Regions from separate parts of the Homo sapiens genome. Here region 1 is linked to region 2. The links come from fine-mapping of genetic effects on gene expression. Tissue or cell type: skeletal muscle. Region 2 holds a variant in brackets; the other region holds the start of a gene. All regions are shown on one strand. Distances are between the middles of the regions. Region 1 holds the start of TTC9-DT (TTC9 divergent transcript). Region 2 overlaps SMOC1 (SPARC related modular calcium binding 1).

Region 1 (2,905 bases), 610 kb before region 2:
GGTCCACTGGTGAGCAGTAGCAGCAGCAGCCATAGCCAGGCCAGCTGGGTCCCCTTCCAGTCATTTCTAGGTGAGATTTACGATGTATGCTAGCGAAGGGACAAGAGATGATTATGGCCTTTGAAAGGCATAATCCTGAAAGTCACACTTTTTCCAAAGCGCCTCCCTCCCGGGTTCTCCCCAGAGCAACACAGTCACAGCAGGAGAATCTGCACCGCGGGAGCGCCGCAGTGGTCCGCGGAGGGACCGGGCCGAAGAACGGGGACCGCGGCGCGGGGGGCGCGGCGCGGCTCACCTGCCAGGCTGTTGTAACAGTCGATCTCGATGGCTTCCACCGTCTTGCTCTGCTCCTCCGAGAGGCGGCCGGGCTTCAGGGCCCCAGCCGGGGAGGCCGGGCGCGAGTCCCGCTCCCGTTCCCCGGGGGGCGGCAGCAGCCCCTTCAGCTCCAGCAACGCCCGGTGGTATTTGCCTATGGCTTCACGGAATTTCTTGTCCTTGTAGCACTGCGCCCCTTGGCTTTTGAACTCGTGCGCTCGTCGGATGAGCTCGGCCGGCTCGGCCGCCGCCCCGACCTGGCCCCTCGCTGGGGCTCCTCCGCCGCCGCCCGGGACGCACAGCGGCGGCGGTGGCCGCTGCCCCTCTCCGGCCGCGGGCGGGCTCGGGTTCCCCTTGGCCCCGGCCGCCGAGCCCTTTCTCTCCATTCGGCCGCCGCCCCGGCGCCTGGTGCGCGCCGCGATCTGCCCGCCGCCGCCGCCGCCGCCGCGCCTTCCCGGGTTTAAAAGCCGCGGGCGCCGGCCCCGCGCCTCGCAGGCTTCGTGGCGGCCGTGACACCCCGCGGCGGTCTGGCGCCCCGCACTCCCATTCTCCCCGCTGCTGCCAGAGGCTGCTCCAGCCGCCGCCGCCGCCGCCTCGGACGCCGGCCCCTCCCCCGCCTCCCGGCTCCGCGCCGCCCGCTCCCGCCCTCCTCCCTCCGCAACCTGCGGGTGGCGGGGGCCGGTGCTCGCGGGCCCGGGACTAGCGCTGCGGGGGGACCGTGGCCCCGAGTGGGGTGGCGGGGATGGTCGCTGACCCGGAAGAAGCTTGGCTTGCCCGAAGGAGGGGAGGATTAATGACAAAGACGGCCCCGCTCTTTCCCATTCAATCCCGCTCTGCGAGGCGCGCCTAGTCTGAAAGGAGGTGGGGGGAGGGGGGTAGGTGTAGGGGAAGGGGAGTGTGTGTGTGTGCGTGTGTGTGTGTGTGTGTGCGTGCGTGTAGGGATGGGGGGCGGCGGCGACGAAATGCGTGCAGAAATAGATTTCTTAACTACAAGAAAAGGTGCGGCAGGGAACAAGGGGCGCAGGCGCAAGCCGTAGCTGCTAGTTCTTTGCAGTAAGGTGTTAGTATTTTTTAAGGGGGCAGGGCCTCCTTTTTGTGGATCCAGGTTGTCGCTGAGGTGTGTCTCGGTGTGTGTGGTCGCCGGGGCGTCCAGAACGCGACGGGCGGTACAGCGTGTGGGGCGCCGTATTCTGGGAGCCTGTGTATGCGTGTGCTGTGTGCGCGCAGCTGTGCAGGATGAATCACAGACATCAGAGATGGAGAACACCTGTTACTGTGGGTCATCGGCTTGGCGTGCGTCCGGTCTAGTTTCCATTTACAGGACAGTTCTGTGCCCTTCCTCAGGAGGTCCCATTCCTTCCTTCTTTTGGTCGGTTCTGAGTGTCAGCTGTCTACTGGGGATCTGCTAAGGCTAAGAGGCAAAGATAGGCAAGTCACTCCCCTGACCTCAAGAAACTCCCAGTCTACAGGCGAAGATACACCACCCACCGGTAGAGTCGCTGGACCAGGTACAGATGGTGCCTGTCATTGGGGAGGAACGAAAAGTGCTGTGCAGCCCTGAGGGGGGGAGGGAGAGGTAGCTTTTTGAGTAGTGGTAGATCAGGAGGCTTTATGGAGGAAATAGCATTTGAGGACCTTGAAGGCTGGGTAGGATTTGGCATGAAGAAGTAGAAGGAAGTGGCATAGCCGGAGTGAGGAAATCCAGCGGAAGTCCTGATGTTTGAAATCTCAGGTGTGTTTAGGGCATAGTGGTTTGATTTTATAGCCTAATGAGAAGTAGTGGGAAATGACGGGGTTGGATTATGGGGGCTTTTGGATGAAGAGTTTGGATTTGATTTTGGAGTCAATGGAGAAGCCTGACATATTTTTTAGTGCCCTCCCTTCCTTAATGTTAAGAAAAAGAAAGATTCTAGAGCACCGGTTGTCAGAGTGCTGGCCCCAGACCTGCAGTGTCAGCATCACCTGGGAAACAGTTAGAAATGCAAATCCTAGGATCCTACTCCAGACTTAAGAAATCAGAAACTCTGAGGGTGGGTCTCAGTTAACCAGTATATTGGTTCAGATATGCTGCTTTAAAACCTTCCTACTCAAAATGTAGACCTTGGGCCAATATCATCAGCATCACAGGAGAACCTATCAGAAATGCAGAATCTGAAAATCCCACACCTACTAACCCAGAAGCTGCATTTTAACGAGCATACTGGGTGATTTGTTTACCTATTAAAGTGTGAGAAACACTGCTGTAGAGACTTTGGAAAATACAGTAAAGTATAAAGAACCCCCCAGTCTACACCCAGTTGTATTCTTTGTTAATATTTTGATGTAATTCCTACCAGTTGTTTCCTAGGCATCTATATTTGTAAAAAGTGCTCTTTTAGCCAACATAAGTGGTATGGAACAATATACACAATTCATTTACTGTTTGTTGTTGTTGTTGTTGTTTTCTTTTCTTTTTTATTTTTGAGTCAGGGTCTTTCTCTGTCACCCAGGCTGCAGTGCAGTGGCATGATAATTGCTCACTGCAGCCTCAAACTCCTGGGCTCAAGGGATCCTCTCACCTCTTACTTTAGCCTCCTGAGAAGTTGCAACT
Region 2 (2,905 bases):
GAACTCTAAAAGAAGGTGACAGCCCCAAGGCAGGCAGGTGGGAAGCGGCAGAGTCAGGCTGCTGACTTCAAATCCCACCTTTCCTCCACTCCCTCCAGCAGCTGCTTCTCTCCTTGCTGAGTAGAAAGGTCAGCACATCTAAAAAGGAGGTGCACAGCAGTCCTGCCCACCAGGCTGAGATGTGTGAAGCAAAATGGACAGCTAGCCGTAACCAGCTCTTTTTCATGGAGGCTTATGTGCTAATCCTGTTACCTAAGTCCTATCAGTTAATCCTCAGAGCGACTTTATTTGAGAGTGATAAAATTATCTCCATCTTAGGATGATGAAACTGAAGCTTGGAGATATCAAGTAACCCACCCAGGATGGCACAGCTTCCATGCGGCAAAGCAAATTCCGACCTAGCTAGCTGCCTCCAGAATCATGCTCTGAGCCATCAGGGAGGATGGAAGAGAAGAAGGCTGAGCCCCAGGCAGTTGGCATCCTCAGACAAGGCAAAAGAAGAGCGGATAGTTCTGAGAAAAGGAGGCACTAGACCCCACCCCGCCTGCCTCACAGGACAGTGACAATGATCCCAGTGAAGGTGCTTTATAAATTGGGAAAGTGAAGAAAGAGGCATGTTATGCAGAGAATTCAGCTCTCCAGGGAGGAGTCTGGTTGGTAAAATATCTGTGATCCAGTGGAATTTCCAAAAATTCAGTCCCTTGGACCCAAAACTCTACTGGTCCCCAAGCTCGGCATCCTTCCCCCAGCCAGCTTCTGTCCCCACCTAGCATGCAAGCCCCTCGCAGCCCACCAGGGGGCACCGCACGACACGGGATGGATGACCGACGCATAGGCTCTGCTCCCGGAGCCCCTGCACACCATTGACCACAGGGGCTTTTTTCTGCCGCCCTGCAGAGCAGAGGGATGGAGGGGGCAGTTCTGAAACTCATACCTTCTTTCCCGGACATGTTCCTCTACCGCTACCAATTTCTTTTGTGCCTTCGCTATGTACCAGGTACCGTGCTAAGTTCTTCACACACATTATCTGATTACATCCTCACCAAATCGTTGAGGTAGGTACTATAATCTCCACTTTGCAAATGGGGAAACGGAGGCTTAGAGAGTTTAGGTAACTTGCCAAGGATTAAAGATCCGGTAATTGTCAGAGCTGGGATTAAAATCAAGCCAGGCCCATCTGACTTCAGGGCCTCTGCACTTACTCCAGCCCCTACTTGTGCCTGATCATGGTATACCCACACTGCTCCTGGGCCTCTCAATAGTGGTCCGTCATCCCATAGGCACTGCCTGCCTGGAAACTGTGGGCTTCCCC[A/G]CTCAGGTTGCTGGTGGCACCCTCACCCCCTGCAACACCTCTACTCCTGCCCACGCTGCCCCCAGGCTGGTCTGCTCCCCCTCTTCCCCAGACTCCCCCACTGGCCACTCCCTTGGCTTCACCAGGCAACCAAGACTGGCCTGCTCACACAAGGCGACATCTTCAAACACACTGGGGTCCTTCTCCTGGAGGGGACAGCAGTCTGGCCCAGGAATCCTGAGGCTGGGCCAAGCGCCAGCAGTGGTGGTACCTCACATGTACCCTTGAGCAAATCGCTACTCCTCTCTGGGCTAGCCTTGACTCCTAGACTGCAAAATGGACTAGAGGACCCACAGAGCCTTCTAGCTCTGGGCTGCTTGGGTCCAGAGCAGTGTGTCCTGTGGTGTGTGTTGAAATGGAGAGTGGGGACACAGGAATCCTTTCTGCCTCTGCATAGGCTTTAAGTCTACTCAGCCTCCACTTCACCCCACCCCATTGATTAATCCTACATACCCTCTTCCTCTTATCTCAATGTTCTACTCTCCCTCACTCCATCACACTCATACACACACATATGCAGACACATGCACAGACATACACAGACATATGCACAATGCATGCACACATGTGTATAGACATGCACACATAGCCATACTTAAAGACATAAGTGTAGACCATGTACAAACAGACACAGACATGAACACAGACAGGTGCACACTCAGGCCTACCCACAGAGACATGCACAAACAGACATGTGTATATACATTCAGAGACATGTCACAGACACGGGCTTTCTGGCCAGACTTTCCATAGTCCTACCTTTGAGGTGAGAGGTTCAAGAGGGTGTATTGGGCCAAGAAGAATGACAGTTGCACTCCAAAGCACCCTAGGGGCCTCTGTGGGCAAAGCTATGAGGATAACTGAAACTAACACTTGTCTGCAGCTGAGCCTGGATTGAGGAGGAACATCCAGATGACCAGGGATCCCTAAATCTACATTCTACTTCAGTTTTCTCTGGATGCTTCTGTCAGGTCCTGTATGTCAGCTGGGACTGGCAGACACCTGGTGCCTGGAAAGGCTTCAGAGGAAGGCTAGGAGGAGTCCCTGAGCTCGGTGGATCTGAGCTCACCACACTCAGCCATTGCTTGGCTTCCGTGTGCTGTGCAGACCAGAACTACTAGCACGGGAAGGGGGCCGAAGGCAGGGGCAGTACAGAGCATCATCGCTTAGCCCAGGAGTGCCCCTGGTATGCCTGGGGTCTACATTGACACTGGATGGTCTCTTCCCGACATTGGCCATCTGACTGTGCTCTGCGAAAGGACCACAAATTCCAAGCGTGTCAGAGCATAATGTCACCGGAAGGGGCAACCCCCCCATCCATTCATTCCTTCACTTATTCATTCATCTAACAAGGACTTAATGAATTACCAGGTGCCATGTACGGTGCTAGAGGTTAGGAATTGAGAGAGAGAATCCTTTTGGCTTCAAGGGGTAATCGGAAGAGTAAACTGCAACACAGTGTAAGTTCATCTTACAAAGAAGAATAGTAGTATTGAACTTCTATTGAGTTATTTCAATTTCTCAGGAACTTTGGGAATGCTTTAACTCACTGTC

What was found. PIP is the estimated chance that this variant, and not a neighbour inherited with it, causes the effect.
Region 1: TTC9-DT starts here. The variant in region 2 is the best candidate, but not a certain one, in a credible set for the expression of TTC9-DT in skeletal muscle (FUSION, PIP 0.88).

The regions. Positions count from the first base shown.
Region 1 is chr14:70,639,926-70,642,830 of GRCh38, reverse strand. It overlaps TTC9-DT (TTC9 divergent transcript), which reads left to right and starts at 1,533. Exons shown (of 3, transcript NR_110071.1): 1 at 1,533-1,823. TTC9 (tetratricopeptide repeat domain 9) reads right to left here and starts at 915. Exons shown (of 3, transcript NM_015351.2): 1 at 296-915. The coding sequence starts at 701. RefSeq lists silencers at 361-430, 451-640, 861-1,010 and enhancers at 1,481-1,740, 1,841-2,020.
Region 2 is chr14:70,025,889-70,028,793 of GRCh38, reverse strand. The region is part of intron 11 of SMOC1 (SPARC related modular calcium binding 1); the gene reads right to left. Among named protein-coding and RNA genes, the nearest start is that of SNORD169, 49 kb to the right of the region's middle. The variant A/G (reference allele first, on the strand shown) is at 1,313.